Linked DNA regions of Homo sapiens. The protein of the gene in region 1 purifies or fractionates together with the protein of each later gene. This does not show direct contact. Each region holds a gene or a part of one and is shown in the gene's direction. Other genes may lie near its edges. The genes, in order: AHCYL2, PIP4K2A, FAM13A and NFKBIL1.

Region 1 (7,027 bases):
AGGAAGCATTTTTTTTTTTCCGAGTGTTTTTTATTCTGTCATTCCAGCGGCTTCATATACAGATAGCTCTGATGATGAGACATCGCCCAGGGACAAGCAGCAAAAGAACTCTAAGGGAAGCAGTGACTTCTGTGTTAAGAACATCAAACAGGCAGAGTTTGGACGAAGAGAAATTGAAATTGCTGAACAAGGTAAAGAAAACAAGCACCTTTTCCTTCTTAACCTACCTGTGTCTTTTTGTCCATATTAATCCCTTTTTATGTCTGGGGTCTGGTAGCTTGTGAAATTTCTATGTGATAAGAATACTTATAACAAAAGAAATGTGAGTTCAAGAAACACTGGGGAAATCTGGCAAGTCTAGAAGGAACCCTGTATTAAAAAAAAAAAAAAAAAAGGGAGAGAGACTGGATAAGGACTGGAATATAGAGAATCAGAACCCTGGAGCATTTGCCTCCAAAAGCCCTTTATAAAGGAAAATACAGGTTTAATGTCTTGATCCCTGGAGAAACCTAATCTAACCTGATCAGGGGAAGGATCTTAACTTAAGAAAACAAGTTTTTCTGTTTGTTCTTTTATCTCTTATTCCTTCTTCTTTAATATTGCTGTATTTATTGGGCCTTTTCAGAAATGCCTGCATTGATGGCTTTGAGGAAGAGAGCTCAAGGAGAAAAGCCTTTGGCTGGAGCCAAAATCGTGGGTTGCACACACATCACTGCTCAGACTGCTGTGAGTTCTTTTCTTTTCTCCTTTTAATTACAATAGTTAATAATAGCCACGAGCTACTGAAAGCTTACAACATGCCAAGCACCGAGTTAAGAGCTTAACAAGTATTAGCTTATTAATCCTTATAATGGCCATATAAAGCAGGTATTCTTGTTTCCATTTTATAAACGAAGAAGCTGAGGCTCAGAGGGCTTAAGATATTTGTTTAAGGTTATACAGCTAGAAATCACAGAGTCAAGATTTTAACTTCAATATACAGTAGTCCCCCTGCCTTGTCTGTGGGGGATAAGTTTCAAGACCCCTAGTGGACACCTGAAACTTCAGACAGTACTGAACCCTATATATACTATGTTTTTTCCTATACATATATACCTATAATCAAGTTTAATTTATGCAATTGGCCCTGCATGTCCACCAGTTCTGCTTCCTGAGGATTTGACCAACTGCAGATCAAAAATATTCAGAAAATAAAATAATACAACAATACAAAATAACAAGAAATATAACAACTATTTACATAGCATTTACACTGTATTGGGTACTATAAATAACCTAGAGATGCTTTAAAATATACAGAAGGATGTGCACAGATTATATGCAAACACTGCATCATTTTATATAAGGGACATGAGCATCCTCAGATTTTGGTATCCATGGGAGTGCTGGAATAAATCCCCTGAGGATACTGAGAGACAGCTATAAATTCAGCACAGTAAGAAATGAACAACAGTAACTCAAAATAAAAGAGAGCAATTACAACAACAGACTGTAATAAAAGTTATGTCACATAAAGGAATTTATCACAGTACATAGCAGAAAGTCCAAAGGGAAGGCAGACTTCAGATGCAGGATCTCAGGGCTCCAGCTTCACCTCTCTGATTCTCTTGGAGCTGCCTCCTCAGTATGCTTACTTCACCCTAAAGCTGATAGCAAGATGCTTACAACTATTCTAGTCATCACAAACTGACATGAAAAGGAAGAGGGACCATTTCTTCCTCACTCAAGAGAAGTCCCTCCAGGATACTCCATCGTGTCTCATTGGGCAGAACTGGATCATGTATCTGTGCTCCACCAGTCCTACCGAGGGGCGTGGAATTACCATGATTTGCTTACACCAGTGATTCCTACCTTACTCTCATCAGTTTTAATGTCCCCTTTTTATTAAAAAACTTTTTTTTTGCAGTGTCCCTGAACTATCCTGAAATGAAATTCAGATATAACATGTCCAGGTACATATAATCTTTAAAAATAAATCAATATAAAATCTTAACTGAAATATGAAGGAGGAATAAAAAAAGTACAATACTTAAAATAATGTGTATTTCAATATGTAAATACTTGAGGACAACTATAGTAGAACAATCAGATATTTGTACTATTTCACAGTATTATTTGAAATAGTATTATTTGAAGACAGAAATAAATGTGTTATTGATTCCAGAGCATCAGAGCAGCATTGCCATGATTTTCTGAAATAGTAAACAACTTTTTGTAATCTTCTAAACAATAAGAACAACAAAAAGTATGAGTTTTCTCTTCATTTACATAGCTGTTACATTCCTGGAAAAACTATTGTTTTGTATTAAAACTACAAAACTACTTTTTGCTAATTTGTAAAGTGGAATTAGGTTCTAAACTCAGATAATTGTAGATAGGTTTTTCACCCATGGGAACTTTTATTGGGACATTTGAAAATTGTACCAGCTGCAACACAGTTTTTTGTTGAGACACTTTCAAAATGTCCAGATTCCTGGTCCTGCCCACTAAATGCCAATAGCACTCCCCTTCCAATTATTGTGGCAACCAAAAATGCCCCCACAATTTTCTAGATCTCCTCTTTTATCACCAGAGATGCAATATATATGGAGTTGCTAACCATAATGAGACCACTATCGGGAAATTGTTATATTGAGCAGTGGTCTGGAATCTTTTATGGGGATTCATAAGATCTGGGTCATCTGTGTGGCTAGATCAGCTTTCCAAAGATTGTCTCTCCCAAAGCACAACACTTATGTGGTCACATTCCTGATTAAGAACATTAGAGATTCCTCAAGGTACAGACAGCTTCTATTAGCATCTTCACTATGAAACTTTTCTGGGTTATGTGTTCTCTGAGGACAAGAGTACCCTGACTGCTCAAAATTAATATAATAAATTGAAAAGCTATCTGTTTTGGAGCTACAAACTAATGAATCAAGACAGAAACACTCTTGAATCTTTTTTGGCCTGCTCAGTCAGCGACATGAGACTTCAGTGTGGTAGCTTAAAATAGTAAGTGCTTCTCTACTGTCTCATGTTGCTGAATTACATCTAGTTTGTTTTTTACCCTTAGGCTCAGTGAGCATTACCACCTTTCATGGTTCCCTTTCTATTTTTTTCCTGAATGGATTGATCACAATTAGCTTACCAATTTTAATATTAATTTATTGTTTCCACCCCACATTTTTTTCCTTTAAAAAAATAACGACAAAGAAATTATGCTTTGTTTGCCAACCTAATACTCTTTCACTCTTGTCTTAGTTCATTTGGGCTGCTATAACAAAATACCTTAGACTGGGTAATTAATAAACAATAGATATTTATTGTTCACAGTTCTGGAGGCTAGGAAGTCCAAGATCAAGGCGCCAGCAGATTCAGTATCTGGTGAGGGCCTGTTCCTTATAGATGGCGCTTTCTATGTGCCCTCACATGGCCAAAGGGGCAAGCAAGCTTCCTCAGGCTTGTTTTATAAGTACACTAATCCCATTTGTGAGGGCAGAAATCTCATGTCTAATCACCTTCCAATCACTTCCATAATCACCTTTTAATACCATCGCCTAGGGGGTTAGTTTTTAACATATGACTCTGGGGGAGGAGAACATACATTCAGACCATAGCAATCCCCAAATACTTTAGTGTGTATTTTCTACAAAGAAGGACATTTTCCTGTACTAGCAGTATAACCATCAGAAGTAGAAAATTAACATTGATTCATTATTACCATCCAATCCTTAGATCCCACTGGAGTTTCGCTTGTTGTTCTGATAATATTTTTCTAACAAAAGAATCCAGTCCATGGTTATATGTCACATTTAGTTGTCATGTCTTTTTAATCTTCATTAGTACAGAACAGTTTCTCAGTCTTTCTTTGATTTTCATGACCTTGACACTTTTGAAGATTACAGATGAATTATTTTGTAGAATTTCCTCAATTTGGATTTTTCTGATGCTTCCTCATTATGAGATTCAGGCTATACATCTATGGTGGGAATTCAGGGAAGTGATATATCCTATCAGGTGACACATGATTTCAGTTTGTCCCAGAACTGATGATATTCACTTTAATCCCTTGATTGAGGTGGTGTCTCCCAGGATTTTCCTCTGTAAAAGTTTTTTTCCCAGTTTATAATTAATATGTTTTTTGGGCTGGGTGTGATGGCTCACGCCTGTAATCCCAGCACTTTGGGACGTCAAGGTTGGCAGATCACTTGAACCCAGGAGTTGAAGACTAGCCTAGGCAACATGGTAAAACCCCATCTCTACAAAAAAATACAAAAGTTAGCCAGGTGTGGTGGCATGTGCCTGTAGTTCCAGCTACTTGGGAGGCTGAGGTGGGAGGATTGATTGAGCCCGAAAGGTCGAGATTGCAGTGAGCAGTGAGCTGAGATTGCACTGCACTCCAGCCTGGGTGACAGAGTGAGACCCTGTCTCAAAAATAAATAAAAATAGAATTAATATGTTTATGTGAGATAGTACTATGAAACTGTAAATATCTCATTCTTTATCTTACTTTGATTTATTCATTATTTTTATTTGTATGGAATCATTGTTTCCTATTTTATTTAATAGGTTATAATCCATTACTATCATTACTTATTTACATGATCATCTTGTTCCCAGTTTGACCAGGGAGAGCCTCTTCAGTGTGGCTTCTGTGACTTCTTTTGTCTTTTGATATATCCCTTTCATTCTTTGAACATTTCCTTGCTTTTGGTACAAGATCACCTAAGCTCATCTTGAACATTCCATGCCCTACTCTTGGAACCAGCCATTTCTCCCAGAATGCCTAGCTCCTTTTAGTGGATCTGGGCACTAATGTGCTCTTTGCTTTTGAAATGTCATTGTTCCCAGATCCTCTTTTTTCCCTCTCCATACATGTAACTGGAGTTCCAGAAGGCAAAGAGGGAAAGAATCCATAGACTCCCATAGACCCCATAGATTTTGAGCACTCCGTTGTGATTTTTTTCTGCCAGTCTTCTTCTTTTTGTATTTCAGTTCAGTAATTTCTTTTTTTGTTGTTGTTTTGTTTTGTTGAGTAGGGTCTCACTGTGTCACCCAGGCTGGAGTGCAGTGGTACAATCATTGCAGGCTCATTGCAGCCTCAAACTCCTGGGCTCAAGCGATCCTCCTGCCCCAGCCTCCCAAGTAACTGGGACTACAGGCATATACCACTATGCCTGGCTAATTTTTTTTAATTTTTTGTAGAGAAGAGATCTTGCTGTGATGCCCAGGCTGGTCTCAAACTCCTGGCCTCAAGCGATCTCCTGCCTCAGCCTTTCAAAGCGCTAGGGTTACAGGCATGAGTCACTGTGCCTGGCTCAGTTCAGTAATTTTTATTGGTCTATCTTCAGGTTCACTGATTCTGTCCTTGGATGTGCCCGGTCTGATGATAAACCTGTTGAAGGAACTTTTAATCTGACTTTTTTTTTTTCCTGGCATTTGTATTTGACTTTTTTTTTTTTTTTTTTTTTTTTGAGACAGAGTTTTGCTCTTGTTGCCCAGGCTGGAGTGCAACGGTGCAATCTTGGCTCACCACAACCTCCACCTCCTGGGATCAAGCGATTCTCCTGCCTCAGCCTCCCGAATAACTGGGATTAAAGGCATGTGGCACCAAGCAGCTAATTTTGTATTTTTAGTAGAGATGGGGTTTCTCCATGTTGGTCAGGCTGGTCTCAAACTCCCGACCCCAGGTGATCTGCCCACCTTGGCCTCCCAGAGTGCTGGCCTTTACAGGCCTGAGCCACTGCACCCAGCCTGTATTTGACTTTTTATTGTTTCCATCTCTGCTGAAATTTTCTATCTATTCATAGATGTTGTCTATCTTTCTCAACTAGATCCTTTAACATAAACATATTAGTCCAGCCTGGGCAATATAGCAAGATCCTGTGTATAAAAAAATATAAATAAATAACATAAACATATTAATCATAGTTATTTTATATCTCCTGTCTGATCAAACATCTGGCTCATCTGAGAGCCTGCCTCTGTTGTTTACTTATTTCCTGACAGTGGGTTTTTTTTTTTACTTTTTGTATGTCCTGACATTTTTAATTGAGTGGTAGTATATTAGTTTTCGTTATAGTCATGAATTGGGCTGAATTTAGAGTTCATTGTATATCAACAAAGGCTTCAAATTCCTCCAGCAGTGGACTGCTATAACCTTGTGATTTGAGGTTACCAAAGGACATTCCTCAGTGCTTCTGCTTTACCCTCAGCCTTCAGCTACTTCTGCACATGTGTGCCACAGAAGTGTCCTCTTTTCAAGTACCTGCCTCATCTGCCGCACTAGACTGCTGCTCTTTGTTTCCTGGGGCTAAGCACACGGTGAGGGCAAGTGGGGTTCTTGGATCTCTGGTGCAGTCTCAGTCTTAGGCAGACCTCTGTGAGGGGCAGGGTTTTCTCAATATTCCTGCCTCTCCTATCTGTAGCAGCCAAACTTTGCCTTGAATCTGTGGTGGGTCTTGGGCAAGACATATTTTCCTGCCCTTCCTGGAGAGCTGGAGAGGTAGCAGATCCTTACTTTGTATCAGTGAACTGTCCTGGGCCCAAGAGGTTTTCCTGTGCCTCTCCCAGAGGCAGAGTTTTTGCTTCTGCCTTCCTCCAGACACAGTGGATCTTTGCCTAGTCCCTAATGGCAGGCCCAATTCCTGCTCTTCCTACAGCTTGAGGCTTTGGTTCCTATGAGAGAAGAGTGTAGGGAAGTGCCCAGGTTTCATGTCTGTTTCTGAGCACAGCCAATCAGCTCCCTGCCCCAGTCTTTGTTTTGAGCACTGGGTGGAAGCCTCTGGAAAACAGCCTGCATGTGAATGGGAAATCTACTTGTGTCTGGAGCTTCAAAAAATTCCACATTGACACACTTTCCCACACCCAGCCTTTCGTAATTGTTCAAAAGTTTAGCTGATATTTTCTTATTCTTATCTGTGGCAGCCATTTCTTCCCCCCATGCACTGCCAAAGGTGAAACAGTCTTCCCTCTCTCTTTAAAAGGATTTGTCACTCTTTGGAGGGCAGTTCACTTCTGTGCTTTATGACCTCAAATCTTTGAT
Region 2 (7,210 bases), on another chromosome or scaffold:
TGGCTTGAGGTCAGGAGTTCAAGGCTGCAGTGAGCTGTGTTCTTGCCACTGCACTCCAGCCTGGGTGTCAGAGTGAGACCCTGTCTCAAAAAAAATAAATAATAAAATAAATAAATAAATAATTTAATGATGTATTTGTGAATGGTATTGTGTTAGATGGCTTTCAAAACATGTTAAATCACCAGAAATTCTGTCCTTTGAAACCTGCAAGTCTCCTCATAACTACCTAAAAATACCACACTATGCCCCTATCTGTCCCTCACATGGTGCTATTGGCCTCTGCACCCACCCACAGATTGCTGCTTTCCTAAGGCGGAGCCTCTCCTAACAACAGGTATCCATCCCCTCTTCCTCTAGGGTCATTCAGCACTCTGTCATCACTAAATTCAGTTTTTTGGCAGTTGCAGCAAGCCTATTGTCTTGCATTATTAATATAAAATTAAGTATAATATAGCTATTATGAAACAAATAAATGCTATGGAAGCACTGAGGTGGAAGGATGAATTTGAATTAGGAGGATCAGGAAAGCATCAGGGAAGAGAGGATTTTTGAGTCTAATTGTTTTCAAGGGCAGGATCCAATAAAGGAGTTTAGGTTGGGTGGTGGTGAAAGGCAATAATTGATGATGATGGTAAGCCTTCAAGCCTGGCCAATGAAAATTTGTTAAATAAAAGAACTTCCAGCTGGGGTAACCGAGTGATATGAATGCCATTTCCAATATAATACAAGAAATAAAGTAACTTGTGGATGGGGAAAGATGTCAAACTTGGCTTTAGATATCTTTTTTTTTTTTTTTGAGATAGGGTCTTGCTCTGTTGCCCAGGCTGGAGTGCAGTGGTGCAGTCATAGCTCACTGCAGCCTCAGTGATCCTCCTGCCTCAGCCTCCCAAGTAACTGAGACCACAGGATGCATACCACCATGTGCAGCTAATTTAAATTTTTTTTTTTTTTTTTGGTAGAAATGAGATCTCGCTATTATATCCAGGCTACCCTTGAACTCCTGGGCTCAAGTGATTCTCCCATCTTGGCGTCCCAAAAGTGCTGGGATTACAGGCATCAGCCAGCATGCCCAGATGGTTTTAGACACTTTTAAAAGATGCCTGTGGAAAAATGATGTACAAATGTGCAACCAGGCATTTCTCTGGGGTCGGGGAAGAGTTTATGAGTTACTTGCAAGCACTCTACATTTTCTATTGTGTTGTCTGGTTTACAAAGGGTTTTCATTGCCATTATCTACTATTGATTTTGATTCTAACAAACATCCTATAATGTAGGTAGGGGAGGATTATATTACTAGGTTCAAAATAGTTCCTAAAGTGACATTTGTGTCTGATGATAGTTACTGTTAACATAAAGAACCCGAGGCTGGGAGAGGTTAAGTGATTTGCTCAAGTAAGTGGGAGAGCTACAGCTCAGTCCCCGTGATGTCTCACTAAAAATTTAGGTTTTGGGCTTTTTTAAACCACTAAGAGCAGTGATGGTTGATGCTGGAGAAGCAGATATCATTTTGGATGAAAGCAAGCAGGAAATTACGACGAGGGGACTTAAAAAACAGTCAAAGAAAGAATAGGAGCAAATGAAGGTGACCACATGACCTCCCCTCAACCCCTGAGGAGACTCAAGATCCTAAAGGGATAATGGCCTGTCATCCTTCATCTCCCTGACAGGACCAAGCAGTCTGCCAAGGGCACAGAAGGTATCTACTATATTTGAGTGGAGTAATAATGACAACAGACAACTTACAGCGGGTCCTCAAATACTGTCATTTTGTTCAATGTTGTTTTGTTATAATGTTGATGAGAAAAAAATGGATTTCTAGCCGGGACCACTGTTTGTATTTGCAGGTTCTCCTCGTGCCTGCAAGAGTTTTCTTTGGGTACCTTGGTTTCCTCTCACATCTTAAAGACATGCACGTTCAGTTCATAGGCTTGTCTACATGATACCAGTAGTTTTTCTTTTCTTTTTTTTTTTTTGTTTTAAGAGACGGGGTCTCCATCTATTACCCAAGCTAGAGTGTAGTGGCATTATCACAGCTCACTGCAGCCTCCAACTCCTGGGCTCAAGCAATCCGCCTACTGCAGCCTCCAGAATAGCTGAGACTACAGGTGTGTACCACCATGCCTGGTTAATTTTTGTATTTATGGTAGAGATGGGGTTTCACCATATTGCTCAGGCTGGTCTCCAACTCCTGGGCTCAAGCAGTCCACCTGCCTCATGCCTCCCAAAGTGCTGGGACTACAGGCATGAATCACTGCCCCCTTCCTAAATGGTCCCAGTTTAAGTGAGTGTAGGGGTGTGTGTGTGTGTGTGTGGTGTGTGTGTGTGTGTGTGTGTGTGTGTGTGTGTCTTGCAACAGAATGGCATCCTATCCAGGGATGGTTCCCACCTTTTGCCCAAGCTGAGCAGCTGGGATAAGGCTCCCACTATCTGTGACCTTGAACTGGAATAAATGAGTTGGAAAAATGAATAAATCCGTGAAACAAATGACTGTAAAATAAAAATATGTAAGTGTACATTAATCATAAAAATGCACGACAATAAATGAGATAGGAGTGCACTCAGCTACCATATTTGTGATTGTTTTTGAATTTCATGGTAGCAGCAGGTCCTACAGGCAACTTTTGCTTTGCAAACACTTATTCCTTGACTTAACCCAGCACCACAGCAACCATCGCTCACTTAATCACTAGAAATTTGGCAAACCATTATCTTGTTTTTATCAATCTTTAAAAAATGTAGGTAGGCCAGGTGCAGTGGCTGGTGCCTGTATTCCCAGCACTTTAGGAGGCCAAGGTGGGCAGATTCCTTAAGCCCAGGAGTTCGAGACCAACCTGGGCAGCATGGTGAAACCCCATCTCTACCAAAAATACAAGAAGTTTATCCAGGCTTGGTGGTGCGCGCCTGTAGTCTCAACTACTGGGGAGTCTGAAGTGGGAGAATCACCTGAGTCTGGGGAAGTAGAGCCTGCAGTGAGCTGTGATTGCACCACTGCACCCCCAGCCTGGTTGACACAGCGAGACCCTATCTCAAGGGAAAAAATAAAAATAAAAAAGAGGTATAGCTCACATTTATTTTAATGTTTAATATTAGAAGTGTTTTGAATTTTTACTTTGAAGTTCGGTGATGTTTTTGTAACCGGAAATAATGCTGTAGGAACTTAACTCTTTTTTTATATGTCAGCCTATGGCAAATTTGGTTTTGTTATATGTTGTTTTGCTTAAGGTGACAGTTTCCAAGAACCTACTCCGTGAGGACTGGTGAGCTGGGTCAGAGTAAATAGCACAGGATGACGACTGCAAGGACGATATGGGGGCAGCAGGGTTTTAGACATACTTGGAATGGCAGCTTCCTGAGGTAGGCCAAGTATTCTCAGCATAATAAGGGCTACATTTAGGTGTATCTGGAGGAAGACGGTGAACAGATTTCCACGGACGGTGAGTGCACTGGAAAACAGGCAGGGATGGCAAGTACCATAGTGATGGATTGGAAGAAGGTGCACTTTGGGGCATGATTCTACTGGTTAAGCCAAGGGCTCTCGATGAGGTCCGAGGTTCCTGCCCCGGGCACGGAGTGGGTTGGCAGTGACAGCCCAGCCTATTACGTGGGAGTCTCCCTCTTGAATGGCTCCAGGAGGCCCATATCGAGGGTCTGAAAGGCCAGACGGTTATCCGCACAAAAGTATTAAGTTCATTTCAGGGACTGACCCGGCAATGTGCCCGGGTCCTTCCCCTCGGTGCTGGGAAGCCCTGGTCTCCCTGCAGCATTTCACACCTGGCTGGGTCTCCTGACTCGTGGCGTGGGTGAGTGCATGAGCCTCCCTCCTTCGCCTGATCGACGCCTGGGGGCTCCTCTCCCCAACCTCCTCACTCTGCCCACTCTGTCCTCTCCCTCCTTGGGGAGCGGCAGGGGACGCCTAGCCGGGGTCCCCAGGCTCCCGCTCGCAACCCACGGCCTCCTCCGCGGGCAGGGAGCGAACGCCCGGAGGTCGCCCGCGCACAGGGGGCGGCCCGGCTGCAGCGGAGCCGGGGCGGGAAGGCGCAGCCTAACGGTCCAGCTGCCGCGCCCCGCGCCCCGCACCCAGTGCCCCGCCCGCGGCGCCGCAGCCGCCTCCCGCCTGCCCGCCCGCCCCCTGCGTCATGACGCCGGCGCCCAACGCGGAAGCCGCTCGCCGCGCGCCGGGTCCAGCCGCGGGCTGAGCGCGGATCCGCGGCGGGCGCAGGATACGGGCCGGGGCGCGAGCCGAGCGCAGTCTGCCGGGCCGAGCGGGCGGAGCGAGCCGAGTGGGGCTGAGCGCGCCGGCGGCGGCGGGCGGAGCGGAGCGCGGCGCGCCGGGGCCGCCGCCGGGGGGATGCGGCTGCCTCCCCGGGCCGGGGTGTAGAGAGGGCGGGTCCCCGGCCTCGGGAGCACGGCGGTGGAGGGGACATAGGAGGCGGCCATGGCGACCCCCGGCAACCTAGGGTCCTCTGTCCTGGCGAGCAAGACCAAGACCAAGAAGAAGCACTTCGTAGCGCAGAAAGTGAAGCTGTTTCGGGCCAGCGACCCGCTGCTCAGCGTCCTCATGTGGGGGGTAAACCACTCGGTAAGGGCTCAGCTGCGGCGCGCGGTCCCCTTCCTCCTCCTCCTCTTCCTCCTCGTTCCCCTCCTCCTCCGGCTGCAGCTGCTGCGGGGCGGGGAGCCGGAGTCAGCCCTGGACCTCCGGCTGCTCGCCCGCCTCGAAGCCCCCAGCCCCGCGGCGCGTGCCCCCAGCCCTCTGGGCCGCCCAGGCACCACCACTTGCGTCCCCTTTAGATCTATGGCCCGGTGCGGGTCGGGGGTCCCGTGTGCATGTGAGTCTCACGGTGGGTGCCAGTGCCGCCCCCGGTCCGCCCGCCCGCCCGCAGGTCGGTCCCCGCAGCCTGGGAGGTAGGAAGTTTGTGCGGGGCACGGCGCCTCGGCTGTCAGCCCCGGCGGGAGCTGCTGGGGGCCGGGTCCGGGCGACCGCTACCCGGTGTGGGGGCCGCGCGGCGCCCGCGTCTTCCGCTTGCGGGCAGGTGTACCTGTCCCGGGCTGGGCGCGTGCGAGCCTCCCACTGGGGCACTGGGGCGAGGATACCGGAGCGCGAGCAGATTTGGGGCAGCAGCTTTAGTGCTTAGGTCCTTTCTTTTTCCTTTAAAGGCAATATTACTGGGCACAAGTCGGCTTTTTGGCAAAGCAGCAGCCGATGTAAATATGGCTCTGGCGTCGGGCGGCATCCCTGCGCTTCTCCCGCATCGCCCTGCCGCTGTGCGGGCTGGAGAGCCCTTGGCGGGGAGTCTTCCTCCCTTCGTCGCCTCCCCCCACTTTGGGGAGTCAGGCAGAAGTCACCGACTGCGGAAGGGCGGCCGGGGCGGGGACAGCAGGCGGGGGTCCCGGCGGGCGCGGGCGGAGGGGGTCCCGAGTTGGCCGCACCCGCTGTGGGGGGTGTGGGAAAGGCTGGAGAACGCGTGGAAAGGTTAGCGTCACGCACAGTCGGGGATTGGAGGATGCGCCGCTGCGGGCTATGCGGACTGCGGTTCGAGGGTCTGAAATAGCCTCCTGCTGATCTGACAGCGAGAAACTCCTGCAGTTTTAATCCACTTCGATAGGATCAGGAAACATGATCGGAGCTGTTGGCTCAGCCAGGAAAGTTTAAACGAGCTGTGAATTTTGACCATGACCTTAGCCACTGCAGTCACTTAGCATCTGGGGAAAAGTGTAAGTTCGCTTTCCCTGCTTTTGATTTCGATGGATGTCTGTATGTCCTTTTCAGCGTAATGGAAATGACAGAAAACCATGCTGGTTTTTCGGAAAACACACACACAGACACACACACACACACACACACACACACCCTCAATGTAGTGAAGTTGTTTAAAATGCCTAAAAGCATCGTTTTTGTATTTTTCTTCCCCAAGCTGAGCAGGGGGAAGGGCAAAACAGTATCAGGATCGATCGTGTTTGCATGGAGTGAGTGTTTTTGGAAAAGTTGAGAAATGATTATTTTTATCCAGCTTAATGACTGACTCACTGAAGTTCATTTTAACTTCCTGGCAACTTCTTTAGCTATTTGGGAATGTAAGTTGTTACAAGAGCATGCATTACTGCACCAAAAACTCCTCTCTCAAGTTTTATTACGGAAAATGAAATGCAATTTTTCCTAAGTAATAAGTTTACAATGTAGAGTTATGTATAATTTTGTTAAGCTCTTTTATTATTTATGTTAGTAGTTTTTGGGTCCCTTATTACTAGAATAGAAACTTACAATTTAAAAAAAGGATGAATACTGTAGTGCTTACTCATATTTATGGTGCTTTTATCTCCTTTGGAGTTCTGGTGTTTTGGTCAGGAGAGTGTTTCTGTCTCGGGGTTTAATTTAGTAAGGTAGTGTCAACAATATGCTGCCGAAAAAGAGTGTGCTTTCTGGGAACTCGTCTGAATTCCAGTTTGCCTTAAAAAATCTTGTAATTGTGTATGTTTTACTGTAACCACTTACGTTGCTACCTTATATTTATGAATTGCTACATTTGTTTTAGAGTTTCTTGCTAATTGGAAATATTTTGAAACTACTTAAGTGTTTCATAGTGTATGACTTGTAAATAGTACATTTGGTGTTATTTTCTTTTGCTCTCAAGAGAAGTTGGCAGTTCTAAGTATCCACAACCAGAGGAGTGAAGTTTCCATTTCATATAAATGTAAGCATGTTACTCATTCAACAGATATATATTGGGCACATACAGTGCCAGCTACTGTGGGAAGAATTGCTAAAACACCTCTAATATTTTTATCCAACTGTCTTTATTTTGAGGGCTCTGAGTTGACATAAGAAAGGTCTGTTTCACAGCCTTTTTTTTCAAAATGTCTATTTTCTTTACTATATTATTTTTGAAAAAAGAATGGAGGTGTAATATAAACATGAAATCTAAAACCCTTAGATGCCATGTATTTCTGGTTTGATTTCATTTTAGGTGACAATGTCTGATATTAGATAAATGTTTTATATGACCTTCTGTGCACCAAAGTTTATAGTATAATGTGAGAATAAATATGTCAGCAGTCTTAAGAACAAACAAGCATGGTGTTGTATACGAGCATCTTCCACATACTGTGGTAAAACGCTCATTGAATCTGCGCTTTAAGTTTTTCTTAAATTCTAACTGTTGACCTTGGGCATGTTAAGGTCAGGTTTTGGCATCAGTGTTTGCATCTGTGAACT
Region 3 (7,027 bases), on another chromosome or scaffold:
TGCCATGAGCATTTCAGCAATACTGGCTTCACAAAGATGAGAAAGTTGTTAAATTGGCAGAATTGTTTTCGTTTAGTTTTGGTTTTAACACATAATGCAGATATTTTTTAGATTAATGCCTCATCATCTCTCTTTGCTTATGAAGTTCTAAAGACTTTCCACTGGAAATACAGATGTTCCCAAAACTGTAGGCACAGATTTTTTAAGGTGATCACTGATGAACTTGACTGCTTGAATGACTCTGCATTCTTTTTTGCCAGACTCTTAGAAAGAACCATCCGATCAGCTGTAGAACAACATCTTTTTGATGTTAATAACTCTGGAGGTCAAAGTTCAGAGGACTCAGAATCTGGAACACTATCAGCATCTTCTGCCACATCTGCCAGACAGCGCCGCCGCCAGTCCAAGGAGCAGGATGAAGTTCGACATGGGAGAGACAAGTGAGTTGGCATTGATTCTTCCTCTTACTTGAGTTTTCTCTTTTTAAAAGAAATATACACCCAAATTAGTCGCTGTGTTATAGTCATACCTCCTGGTCCTCTCCCATTTCAGTATTTAGGTTAAAACTTTAAGAGTTATCAGTTTGTCCATTCTAAACTTAGCTACATTTGGAAATTCATAGGTAATTGCATAAATATTTCCGTTTCATCCAGACATTTGGTATGTTGTTAGAAGCCACCTCTGATTGAATACACCCTATGGCTTCCTCATAAATATCTTATTTAGAGGGATTCTGAACCATGGGCAGAGAAAGTTACCATATGCTTGTCCAGAGGTATTTTTTTTCTTGCTAGACAACATTAAGTTGACTATTTAGACTTGTTTATGGAGCAGCTGATTTCTCCATTATATTTATGTGATTAAATAGTCAGATATCCCTATAATACTCTGACATTTGATTATGTTTTAGTATAAGAAAGGTTGGGCTTAAATCTACTCAAAAAATGAAAAGCTTAAGTTGTTTATTATAATAATCACTAATTTTAAGGCATTCCCATAGTATGAATTTTAAGAATAGTGTTACAAAGAGCTTTATTCTCCATGAAAAGATTTAATAAAATACAGATGAACAATTACCATTTATATTATTTAATAATCATGACTTAAATTGTCAAGGAAAATAAATTTATATAGAGAATAGACTATACAGATATTCATATATTTTCCCTGAAAGTTCCAAGGTTATTTTTATTGACTATGGCCTTTAGCCTCTTTATGGTTTAATAATGACTCCTTATTAAATGTCAGAAACTAACCTGAACCAGACCCTAGCACCCCTCATTCTTTTTCTTTCTTTTCTTAATTTTTAATCTTTATGAATATATAATAGTCCCACACCCCTCATTCGCATTCTTTTTCACTTTGACTCATAATCTACATTAAACCCTTTATGGAAAAAGAAAAAAAACTTTTTTTCGCTTAAAGAAAAACATAAAAGATAAACAGTATAAATAAGTTTCATGCTATACCTCACCGAGATGTTTAAGAGCTATATTAGCAAATGTAATTTTAGAAATAAAGCAGTATCAATAATATAACCCACTGATTTACAAGTAGCATGTGCAGTACTTTTAAAATAAATTTTCATGGAGCTGGTGGATAGAATAGTTGTAATATTCCATTTAGAAAATAGAAAAAGTATAATATAGGAGATATTTACATTTCTTCTCCTGTGGCATGACATGAGATATTTACATTTAAAATTAGCTACTGACATGTTTATAGAAAGTGTTTAGAAGTATAATTAGTTTGTGTACTACCTCTAATGTGTTATAGAGAAAGCACAAATTATTCATTTAACACTGTTCTTATCCTCTGCCTCATTTTTTGCTGAGGAGTATGTAGCAACATTTTGCATTTTAAAAATATCCTCAGTGTGTCACGATATCCTGCTTTCCACCCTCTTTGTTTGGACAGAGGGCTAGCAGGTGGAGGTGGGAAGTGGTGGGGAGCATGAGAGAGAACAGAGAGTGATGGTGCTGTTGGTGGATGCTTGGCAGCAGGTCTGGGGGAGGACAGTGGAGGTAGAAACAGATAGGGGCCAGACAGGGCAGGGAAATGTGAAACACAGCCTCACCTCTCCTGAAGAATTTAAATAGAGAGCTTCCCAAGCCCAGGGACATTTCTTGCATAAGTTATCTTGATTGTTTTTTACTAGCAGTATTAGGAGAACCAAAGGAGATGGGGAATGGTAGCTGAGTGATGGTATGAAGACTATACCCATGAAACCCTAGCCTTTCCCTTAATTGTTCTTCTCTTGCTATTCCCTTCACCACTCCTCCTGGTCAAATCACAGTTGGGCATTGAGTGAGAGAATCTTGGGGTACAAACAGTACCTAACCTGGCACACTATGATACAATCGTGTCTTGATAGTCCTTCAACTCCCAGCCCACACTGAACGGCTTCTCTTAGCTCTCCAGGTCTTTGGAAGAGTGAGACCCTTATCTCTCAAAACCCCCAGATCCACTAATTTTGTCTGGCCCAGCTTTGACCGTAGGTCAGTAGTCATTTCCTGCAACCCCTCTCCCCTTATCTTCATGCTGGGTTCTGTTATCCTTTCACTCACCTTCTTTGATCCAGTGCTCTCATTCCGCTTGTTTCTTCCCAGCTCCACTCTTTCCTTTTGCTCATCTGCTTGCTTGAAATAGTTTTCCAGCAGGCTGATTCTTTCAGCATCTCCTCTTTGGTCTTAGATTTCTGTTTTAACCTTCCTTTCAATGAGCCGCCATAAAGGTCTTCTCCAGTATCTCCAGGAGAGTCATGAACATGTCATAAATTATAAGAAGATCAAGAATCATTAATATAGCCTACAGTCAAGAGTTCGTCATAGTATATGCTTCTATACAATTGATTCATTTAAGATTTTTCACAAGTCTTTACTCAAAAAATAAGGAAAAATTAAGCTAGGCTGTAATATTCTATTCAAAACTATAAGCTTTATGAAGTGGTTAAAAAGTGTTTAGAAACATAGAAATCTATTTATATTATTATCTATTATTTTGCCTCTAGTAACTTAGAGATGCAACAAATTAAAAAATATTCTTGAAGAAGCCAATGATGACTATGTTTCAAGATGAGTAGAAGGGTCAGTAAAGTCATACTAAAGTCGTCATGGCCCATTTTTGAAATAGCAGTACCGAAGATAGACAAAGACTACAAATAACTTCATTCATAGGTACAAATGATTTGTTATTTGTCTAAATTCATAAGGAAATATAATCAGACCTATATTACTATTTGCTACAATTTTGTAGCAAATTAATCTTCATTATGTAATAATAAAATCTTCATTATGTAAAAATATTCAGCTAAATTCATTTAGTAAAAAAATCTACTATCTGCCAAGTTTACAGAAATGTGAAATTTTGGTAATGGGTATATGGAAGTCTGTTATGATAGTGTCTCTACTTCTGTATATGTTTGAAAAAAATCATAAGAAATATTTTTTAAAAGCAAAGCATCATTTAAGTGAAAATGATTTTCAATCTTCTAAAAACACAGTGAACTGGAAAATTGATCCAAATGTTTCTTTGTTATATAAAGACTATATTAAAATCCTACTGCAAAGTAAAAGAAAAGCAGGCTATATTTGGGGAATAATAAATAGTTCAGCATTGCCAGGACATTAAGTAAGTATGTAGGGGTGAGGAGAAAATCCTGAAAAAAATATGGAAATAAATCTAGATAATGAAAGTGAGAGGTCCAGAGATCTAAGTTCAGTGAAATCCAAGTTATGTCAAATGTGATTGAAATCTGACAGAATATTGCAGGAAGGAATTGAGTACACCTGCTCCATCTAAGATTAGATTTAAAGAAATACAACCATGTGTTTTATACAGAGCTGTATCTAAATAAAGTGCCCCTGAAGTCTTCAACAGTGATAATTGAGCACCCAGTACTATAAGGTGATTCAATGATGAAAAACAGATATCGCATCCAGGCTCATGGATCTATAGTGTAATCGAAATTAGAGTTCAACAAAGTGAAGTAGAAGAGACACGTGGATGCACGTAAAAGCAAAGACTTCCCTCGGAGGAGACAGGATTTGTCCATGAGCACAACAGCATGGTCAGATTTTCATATATTTATTTTGACAGGATTTTTTCTAGTCATTCATTCACTATTCAAAATGATCATAAAATAAACTTTACTTTCTTATTTTTAAAAATCGTTTTTAGCTGTCGTCTTTAGTCTGCTTGGGCTGCCATAACAAAATACCACCGACTGGGTGGCTTAAACAACAAAAATTTATCTTCTGACAGTTCTAGAAGCTGTAAGTTCAAGGTCAAGGTGCTAGAAGTGTCCGTTTCTGTTGAGGCCTCTCACACTGGCATGCAGATGGCTACCTTTTCACTGTGTCTGCACATGCCCCTTCCCCTGTGTGCACACTCCTGATGTCTCTCCCTCTTCTTACAATGACATTAGTCCTATTGGATTAGGGTCCCACCCTTGTTACTCTTTTAACCTTATTTACCTCCTTAAAGGCCCTGTCTCCAAATATGGTCACATTGGGGGTTAGGACTTCAAAATGTGAATTTTGAGGGTACATAAATCCGTCCATACTAGCTTTAAAGCATTAAAGATCCTCCATTTAAAGGTTATAATTGGGGCTGGGCGCAGTGGCTCATGCCTGTAATCCCAGCATTTTGGGAGGCCAAGGCGGGCAGGAGTTTGAGAAGAGCCTGGCCAATATGATGAAACCCCATCTCTACTAAAAATACAAAAATTAGCCAGTGTGGTGGCGCATGCCTGTAGTCCCAGCTACTCAGGAGGCTGAGGCAGGAGAATTGCTTGAACCTGGGAGGTCGAGTTTGCAGTGAGCCTAGATCGCACCACTGTACTCCAGCCTGGGCGACAGAGCAAGACTCTGTCTCAAAAAATAAATAAATAAAAATAAAAGTGAAAAAAAAAGTTATAAGTGGACATATACCCCAAAAGCTAGGTTAATGGATACGAAAACATAGTTTGCAAAAGACCTAGTATTTGTTAGGACAACAGGGTGATTAGAATAAAAAATAAATTAATTATACATTAAAAATATCTAAAAGAGTGTAATTGGATTGTTTGTAATACAAAGAATAAGTGCCTGATGGAATGGATACCTCATTTACCTTAATGTAATTATTATGCATTGCATGCCTGTATCAAAATATCTCATGTACCCTGTAATTTATGTATATACACCTACCGTGTACACACAAAATTAAAAATAAATAAAAAACAAACAGAAAAAAAGGCTAGGAAAACTATGAAGAGTGATAAGATAGAATTTAAATAGTAAAATAAATAATTTTTGAGTTTTAGAATTACACCAAATTGATCCAGCCACCCACAGAAGGCACTGCTCTCAGTGCGTGGAGGGGAGAGATTGAGGAACATGTGCATGAGTATAAGTGCTTGCATTTAGTCCCTATCATCTTCTCCTCCTGTCTTCAATTACTTTGTACTTAGAATATCTCTTATAAATGTGCATAAATCTTTTATATAATTTTACTAAATATATATTTTCACATTAAAGTTGTAGAAAAAAGACTAAAATATGGAGTGTTAAAAATTACCAAAGATAGTATAACTTTGAAAATATTATGATAGTATTTAATTCATAATTTTGCCTGTTATACCCTGTCTAAAGATATGAATTTAGATTTCAGAATAAATATTTAATGTTATCTTTCATTTTGGGATATGGTTGAGCCAATAGTAAAATATGATATGTATTTTTACTCTTTAGAATTCATTTATTTCAAGATGCAGTTTTAGGTGTTTAGGGAGGTACATTAACTCACTCATACCACGAAGGAGGAGAATAAAGTCTCATTTATTTGTTCCTTACCAAGCCATGGTGCTGTGCTGATGGTTTTATTTGTTCCATGATATTGTTTCTTTTTTTTTTTAACTCAGTTTGCTAATTTACTCTTGTGAAAACCTATTATAGGAATGCTTAAGATATTAATACTTAAAACTGTTTTATGAACATCAAATGAATTAAATTCTATGACATTCATATCTACTTCTACAACTATGTCATGAAAGAGGTCTGTACTTGGAAGTAACAAATCCAGATTTCAGTTAAAATGCTTTGTATTCCATAGTTTTTATTAACTTATATAATTTCTACTAAGATTATCTATTAATAATTCAATGAGATTGAAATACACATTTCTTTTTTTTTAATTTTTTAATTTTTTTTATTTTATTATCATTATACTTTAAGTTTTAGGGTACATGTGCACAATGTGCAGGTTTGTTACATATGTATACATGTGCCATGTTGGTGTGCTGCACCCATTAACTCGTCATTTAGCATTAGGTATATCTCCTAATGCTATCCCTCCCCGCTCCCCCCACCCCACAACAGTCTCCGGACTGTGATGTTCCCCTTCCTGTGTCCATGTGTTCTCATTGTTCAATACACATTTCTACACTACTAAAATGGAAGATACAATTCCTTTTTAGATTTTTCTCCATACACTGTATGAATTTATAAATTTTAAATATATATATATTTAAACATCTACTGTGAATAATAGGAAATTTCTGTATAAACTTGCACTGTTCTCCCTTTTTGAATACAAATTACTTTTGGTAAAATACAAAAGCTGTCCATTGGTAGAAACAGCCCTTGCCAATTTGCCTCTAGGAATTATTTCTCTTTCAATGTGATTTATTTGGCACCAAGCAGTCCCAGGAGTGGCACTCTGCTCAGATTTTGATCAGAGATGCATACTGGAATTTCTGGGCACTCTTTGGATTTCCTAGGTATGATATGATGTAGTTAGAGTATCATTCAATGACCATTTGATCTTTTAAAATAAAATTAAGCTTTTTTCTCAATTCAAGGGGACTTATCAACAAAGAAAATACTCCTTCTGGGTTCAACCACCTTGATGATTGTATTTTGAATACTCAGGAAGTCGAAAAGGTACACAAAAATACTTTTGGTTGTGCTGGAGAAAGGAGCAAGCCTAAACGTCAGAAATCCAGTACTAAACTTTCTGAGCTTCATGACAATCAGGACGGTCTTGT
Region 4 (7,027 bases), on another chromosome or scaffold:
CCGAAGCAGACCTGCATCCAGACCCCAGCTCTGCCATCAACAGGGACATGCAGCTTACCTCTGTGAGCCCAATTTGCCTCGCAAAAATGGGAGTTTTGTTTTTTGTTTTGTTTTGTTTTTTTGAGATGGAGTTTCCCTGTTGTTGCCCAGGCTAGAGTGCAATGGCGCGATTTCAGCCCACCTCAACCTCTGCCTCCTGGGTTCAAGAGATTCTCCTGCCTCAGCCTCCCAAGTAGCTGGGATTACAGGCATGCACCATCACGCCCGGCTAATTTTGTATTTTTGGTAGAGACGGTTTCTCCGTGTTGGTCAGGCTGGTCTCAAACTCCCGACCTCAGGTGACCTGCCAGCCTAGCCTCCCAAAGTGCTGGGATTACAGGCGTGAGCCACCGCGCTCAGCCAAAATGCCCCTGATAGTGTGGTAGGGATTTCCTTTATTGTTTGTTTGCTTGTTTGTTTTGAGACAGGGTCTCATTCTGTCTCCCAGCCTGGAGTGCAGTGGTGCAATCATGGCTCACTGCAGCCTCTACCTCGTGGGCTCAAGCAGTCCTCCCACCTCAGCCTCCCTAGTAGCTGGGACTACAAGCACACACCACCATGCCCAGCTAATTGTTTGTATTTTTGGTAGAGACTGTTTTGCTATGTTATCCAGGCTGTTCTGCATCTCCTGAGTTCAAACAGTCTGCCCACCTCGGCTTCCCAAAGTGCCGGGACTAGAGGCGTGAGCCACCACACCCAACTCCATTGTATTGAATTTTAAGAAGCTGGTGAGACTGATATTATCCCATTTACAGATGAGGAAAGCAGGGCCCAAAAGGTTCGGGAACTTGTCTGAAATCTCACAGCTCTCAGGTCATTGTCTTCCAAAGGGGGACCCAAGCTCAGTGCCTTCACTCCCAGACCCTGGTGTCCTCTCTGGCCTTATTTACTCCTGGTCCTCTGCCAGCCCTGCCACCAGATGGCCTTCTAACTCCTTGGTTGAAAGGCCCATCTCATTCAGCTTCCAGCTTCCTTTTTCTTTTCCTTTTGAGACGGAGTCTTGCTTTGTCGCCCAGGCTGGAGTGCAGTGGCATGATCTCGGCTCACTATAACTTCTGCTTCCTGGGTTCAAGCGATTCTCCTGCTTCAGCCTCCCAAGTAGCTGAGATTACAGGCACACACCACCATGCCCAGCTAATTTTTTTATTTTTATTTATTAATTTTTAAATTTTTATTTGTTTATTTATTTTTGAGACGGAGTCTCCCTCTGTTCCCCAGGCTGGAGTGCAGTGGCAGTATCTTGACTCACTGCCACCTCCGCCTCCTGGGTTCAAGTGATTCTCCTTCCTCAGCCTCCTGAGTAGCCGGGACTACAGGAGCCTGCCACCATGCCCGACTAACTTTTGTATTTTTAATAGAGATGGGGTTTCACCATGTTGGCCAGACTGCTCTCGAACTCCTGACCTTAGATGATCCACCTGCCTCGGCCTCCCAAAGTGCTGGGATTACAGGCATGAGCCACCATGCCCGACCTAATTTTTGTGTTTTTAGTAGAGATGGGGTTTCAACATGTTGGCCAGGCTGGTCTCAAACTCCTGACCTCAAGTGATCCACCCACCTCAGCCTCCCAAAATGTTGGGATTATAGGCATGAGCCACCGTGCCCATCCCACAGAATGTCTTTTGGTTTTGTTTTTGTTTTCTGTTTTGTTTTGTTTTGTTTTGTTTGAAAAGGAGTCTCATTCTGTCGCCCAGGCTGGAGTGCAGTGGCACAATCTCGGCTCACTGCAACCTCCACCTCCCAGGTTCAAGAGATTCTCCTGCCTCAGCCTCCCAAGTAGCTGGGACTATAGGCGTAGGGACTGTAGGCGTATGCCACCACGCCTGGCTAATTTTTTGTATTTTTAGTAGACACGGGGTTTCACCATGTTAGCCAGGATGGTCTCGATCTCTTGACCTTGTGATCTGCTCACCTCAGCCTCCCAAAGTGTTGGGATTACAGGCGTGAGCCACAGCGCCTGGCCAAAATGTTTTTATGTTTATTTTTCTTAGTATGAAACTCCAGCGTATTAAAGAGCATTGAGAACGGTTGATCTGGTAAATCGCTATAAAGGCGGCATTTCTTTTTTTTTTTTTTTTTTTTTTTTTTTGGCGAAGTGGGGGATGGAGTCTCATTCTGTCGCCCAAGCTGGAGTGCAGTAGTGTGATCTCGGCTCACTGCAAGCTCCGCTTCCCAGGTTCAAGCCATTCTCCTGCCTCAGCCTCCCAAGTAGCTGGGATTACAGGCGCCCGCCACCACGCCCAGCTAATTTTTTGTATTTTTAGTAGAGACAGGGTTTCACTGTGTTGGCCAGGCTGGTCTCGAACTCCTGACCTCATGATCCGCCCGCCTCGGCCTCCCAAAATGCTGGGATTAGAGGCGTGAGCCACCGCGCCAGGCCTAAAGGGGGCATTTCTAATACTGGAGAAAGGTGAACTTTTTTTTTTTTTTTTTTCCGAGACAGAGTCTCGCTGTGTCACCCAGGCTGGAGTGCAATGGCGCAATCTCAGCTTGCTACAACCTCCGCCTCCCGGGTTCAAGCAATTCTCCTGCCTCAGCCTCCTGAGTAGCTGGGCACCTGCCATCATGCCCAGCTAATTTTTGTATTTTTGTAGAGATGGGGGTTTCACCGTGTTGGCCAGGCTGGTCTTAAACTCCTGTCCTGACCTGAGGTGATCCACCCACCTCAGCTTCCCAAAGTGCTGGGATTACAGGCATGAGCCACTGTGCCTGACCAGGTGAACTATTTTATAAATAATATTGGAACATTTGGCTCATCTAGGGAAAAACAAGAGTCCCACCTCACACCTAATCAAAAAGTAAATTCCAGCAGATTAAATACCTGAATATGACAGGAAGGTACACACCAAATTCATGGGACAGATGGCCTGGGGAGGAATGAAACTTGGAAGGCGGTATCACGGTAAACTACCTTTATCTGTGATGATTTTATTTCCTTAAAATAAATTATACTACAAACATGACAGTACATTAACAAACCCTGTGGTAGGAATGGGGTTGTGTATTGTATTATACTTTGTATTTTTGAGAGTTTTTTAATTTCTTTTTTGTTGTTGTTGAGACAGAGTCTCACTCTGTCACCCAGGCTGGAGTCCAGTCGCGCAATCTTGGCTCACTGCAACCTCTGCCTCCCGGGTTCAAGCAGTTCTCTGCCTCAGCCTCCCAAGTAGCTGGGATTACAGGCATCCGCCACCACGTCAGGCTAATTTTTGTATTTTTAGTGGAGACGGGGTTTCACCATCTTGGCCAGACTGGTCTTGAACTCCTGACCTCATGATCCACCCACCTTGGGCTCCCAGAGTGCTGGGATTACAGGCATGAGCCACCGCGCCTGGCCGAGTTTTTTAATTTCTAAAAATAAAAATGAGTATACATCTAAAGTAGTAGAAGAAAATGCAGAGAATGTTTTATAATCTTAAAATAGAGCCTTCCTAAGAGTGAAGTGAAATAAAAAGTCAGAAAATAATATATTGATATAGATTTAACTACATGAAAATTTTAGGCCGGGTGCGATAGCTCACACCTGTAATCCCACACTTTGGGATGCCAAGGTAGGCAGATCACTTGAGCCAGGAGTTCAAGACCAGCCTGAACAACACAGTGAGACCTGGTCTGTACAAAAAATACAAAATTAGCCAGGCGTGGTGGTACGTGGCTGTCGTCCTGTAGTCCCAGTTACTCAGGAGGCTGAGGTGGGAGGATCGCTTGAGCCCAGGTGGGGCAGAGTTTGCAGTGAGCAAGATCATGCCACCGCACTGCAGCCTGGGCAACAGGGTGAGACCTTGTCTCAAAAAGAAAAAAAAAGCTTTTTTAAAGATAGATAGAAGAAAATGTTTGCAATATGTATAACACATACAGTATATAGAACCCTCATATCAATATATATAATTTCCAAAGAAAAAGTGGATAAAGAATATGAGCAATTCATTCACAAAAAATACAAATAGCCAAAAGACATGAAAAAGAAAAAAACATTGTTAATAAAATAATTTTTTAATCTATCCAACTGGCAAAATTAAAAGGGTTGATGATATTCAATTTTGGTAAAGGAAGACATAGGCACACTTGTATATTGGCACAAACTTATTGAGAGCAGTTTGACCAAATTGCGCATGTCCTTTGACTCAGAAATTCCACTTATGAAAATCTACCCCCACAGAAAGACTGTAAGATACTCATGAGGCTGAACATTTTTTGAAACAAAGTCTATCGATATTGGGGTAAGGAGATTTGTTTTGTACACACAGTGGAACACTAATTATAAAGTCGTCAAAAAGTATGAGGTAGACTGTATATATTCCTGTGGAAAAATATAAATGAGATGTTAAATGAAAGAAGCAAGTTGCCAAGCAATATTTGTAGTATGGTTACATATCTCCAAATAAATGTGTCATATGTATGCTTTTAGGTACACCAAGGTGGGACTGGAAGGGATCACAGTACACTGTTAATAGTTATCAAATTTGTTCGTCCTTCTTTAAAAAGAAAATTTCAACTTAATTATATCCCTTTCACATTAAAATGTCAAATAAAATTGGGGGAAAAGCCACCTACAGCCCCACCACCCATAGGCTAGAATTTTTACATATTTTTTGCCAGTCTATTTTTTTTCTTTTTTTTTTTTTTTTTTTGAGATGGGAGTCTCCCTCTGTTGCCCAGGCTGGAGTGCACTGGCATGATCTCAGCTCACTGCAACCTCTGCCTTCCAGGTTCAAGTGATTCTCCTGACTCAGCCTCCCAAGTAGCTGGGATTACAGGCACATGCTACCACGCCTGGCTAATTTTTGTATTTTTAGTAGAGACAGGATTTCACCATGTTGGCCAGGCTGGTCTCGAACTCCTGACCTCAGGTGATCCACCCGCCTCAGCCTCCCAAAGTGCTGGGATTACAGGCCATGAGCCACCACGCCCGGCCTCTTTTTTTCCAACCATAGGATTTGGTCTCTTGTTTTAGACAGTTATTATCTGATCCTCTCTCTCTCTCTCTTTTTTTTTTTTTTTTTTTTTTTTGAGATAGAGTCTCACCCTGTCACCCAGGCTGGAATGCAGAGGCGCGATCTCGGCTCACTGCAACCTCCGCCTCCCAGGTTCAAGCAGTTCTCTGCCTCAACCTCCCAAGTAGCTGGGATTACAGGCGTCAGCCACCACGCCTGGCTAATTTTATATATAATATAAAATATAATTATATATATATTTTGTTTGTTTGTTTTAGTAAAGACGGGTTTTCACCATCTTGGCCAGGCTGGTATTGAACTCCTGACCTTGTGATCCATTGTCCCCCCCCCCCAGCCTCCCAAAGTGCTGGGATTACAGGCGTGAGCCACCGTGCCTGGCCACATCTGATCCTCTCTACAGTTTTGTAGCCAGCTTTTTTCAAACACATGCCTCAGTTGTAGTGGCTGTTTAATATTATGTTTTTATAGTTGGAGGCCCTACTCCTTAAAACCTATGAATGTAAACCTCCCATGCAAGCCTGAGCACTCACCATGCTCACCACCTGAGCTCAGGTGGGGAACAAGCGAATGAGAGACAGGACCAGGTACTTTCTGGGTGGGACAAGTTGAGAGGGTCTGTGACAGGTCACAGCAGCACTAGGGAGAAGTGCCCCCCCCCACCAACCCTGATGTGATTTGGGTAGGGATGGTGGGCCTTCGCCAGCCACACCTGGGCCATTCTGTCTTCTTGCCTTCCTGGCCTTGCCTTCCCCTATTCCAGCTTTCTGCCAGGTAAACAGTACTTTCCAGCACTACCAAATAAAGATTTAAGGACTGCTAGCCCATTTCCTCTTACCCCGGGGAAAGAAAGTAGGTCCACAGGAAGGAAGGCTGCCTCCCTCCCCTTCTTCTATCCCCCAAGTGAAAGAGGTGGTTGGTGGCCACAGCAGGTGGGCCTGGCCAGGATGCCTGGGTTGGCAGTGAAGGAAGTAGCATGGCACTCAGCTAACCTTGGGCCAGATGCAGCAAGGTTGGGACTGAAGAAAAGGGGAGTTCAGGAACGTCGGTTCCTCTCCTGTTTTCTCTCAGCCCATGGGTGAGACCCTCTGTCACACTCCACTCCCTTTCCCCTGCCCTAGGTCAGCAGTCATTTGGAAAGAGCTTGCTCTGCCGCCGGCCATAGTTGTTGCCGGTTCACCTCCCCACCCCTCTCCCATCATCCCCTGGTAAGGCTGGCTGAGAGAAATTCCCCTGAAAACATTTATTTTACTCAGTTTATTGATAAGTGATAATAAAAGATAAGTATTACATATTTGTGTATTTATTAATGGCCCAGAGTAGAGCATTCAGATATTTTCCCAGTCTGATATATGGTTTCAGGTGAGAAAATAAGGGATTTATATAGTGACAATATTTTTAAGTGAAAAGTGGAATACATAGTCAAAGAATTTGGGCACTGCCTTGGTGGCTGGAGGCAGGTCAGAAAATGTCAGTTGGCATGGTAGAACTTCTAGGACGCTGAAATAGTTTGTGGAGACACAAGTAAGAATTTTTTTTTTTTTTTTTTTGAGACGGAGTCTTGCTCTGTCACCTAGGCTGGAGTGCAGTGGCACGATCTCGGCTTACTACAAGCTCCACCTCCCGGGTTCACATCATTCTCCTGCCTCAGCCTGCCGAGTAGCTGGGACTGCAGGCGCCCGCCACCAGGCCTGGCTAATTTTTTGTATTTTTTAGTAGAGATGGGATTTCACCATGTTAGCCAGGATGGTCTTGATCTCCTGACCTCGTGATCCGCCCGCCTCGGACTCCCAAAGTGCTGGGATTACAGGCGTGAGCCACCGCGCCTGGCCGAGAATATTTTAAACTACCACACTTACCATGCATGTGGTAAACTATCAGTCTGTATTTATCAGTGATGGTTATTTCCTAATACCCAGGAGGCATCCATGTGAGCCACCCTTCCATTGCTTTAAGACCAAGGGAGCGAGTGACCAGCAGGATTCAAGATGGCAGCTCTGCCGAGGAGTGGGAGTCCCAGCTAACTTCTGCTCCCT

Evidence for each region.
Region 2: the proteins of AHCYL2 (region 1) and PIP4K2A purify together in Homo sapiens (co-immunoprecipitation; 3 studies listed by BioGRID and IntAct, with this or other methods). This does not show direct contact.
Region 3: the proteins of AHCYL2 (region 1) and FAM13A purify together in Homo sapiens (affinity purification with mass spectrometry; 2 studies listed by BioGRID and IntAct, with this or other methods). This does not show direct contact.
Region 4: the proteins of AHCYL2 (region 1) and NFKBIL1 purify together in Homo sapiens (affinity purification with mass spectrometry; 2 studies listed by BioGRID and IntAct, with this or other methods). This does not show direct contact.

Annotation. Positions count from the first base shown.
Region 1 is NC_000007.14:129,389,009-129,396,035, forward strand, and holds part of AHCYL2 (adenosylhomocysteinase 3), read left to right. Parts: intron 1-47; coding exon 48-191; intron 192-625; coding exon 626-726; intron 727-7,027. UniProt on the Homo sapiens protein: May regulate the electrogenic sodium/bicarbonate cotransporter SLC4A4 activity and Mg(2+)-sensitivity. On the contrary of its homolog AHCYL1, does not regulate ITPR1 sensitivity to inositol 1,4,5-trisphosphate.
Region 2 is NC_000010.11:22,711,552-22,718,761, reverse strand, and holds the start of PIP4K2A (phosphatidylinositol 5-phosphate 4-kinase type-2 alpha), read left to right. Parts: upstream 1-4,183; 5' UTR 4,184-4,435; coding exon 4,436-4,579; intron 4,580-4,653; exon of another isoform or gene 4,654-4,826; intron 4,827-5,569; exon of another isoform or gene 5,570-5,712; intron 5,713-7,210. UniProt on the Homo sapiens protein: Catalyzes the phosphorylation of phosphatidylinositol 5-phosphate (PtdIns5P) on the fourth hydroxyl of the myo-inositol ring, to form phosphatidylinositol 4,5-bisphosphate (PtdIns(4,5)P2). Has both ATP- and GTP-dependent kinase activities.
Region 3 is NC_000004.12:88,781,166-88,788,192, reverse strand, and holds part of FAM13A (protein FAM13A), read left to right. Parts: intron 1-260; coding exon 261-440; intron 441-6,841; coding exon 6,842-7,027.
Region 4 is NC_000006.12:31,550,585-31,557,611, forward strand, and holds part of NFKBIL1 (NF-kappa-B inhibitor-like protein 1), read left to right. Parts: intron 1-7,027. UniProt on the Homo sapiens protein: Involved in the regulation of innate immune response. Acts as negative regulator of Toll-like receptor and interferon-regulatory factor (IRF) signaling pathways.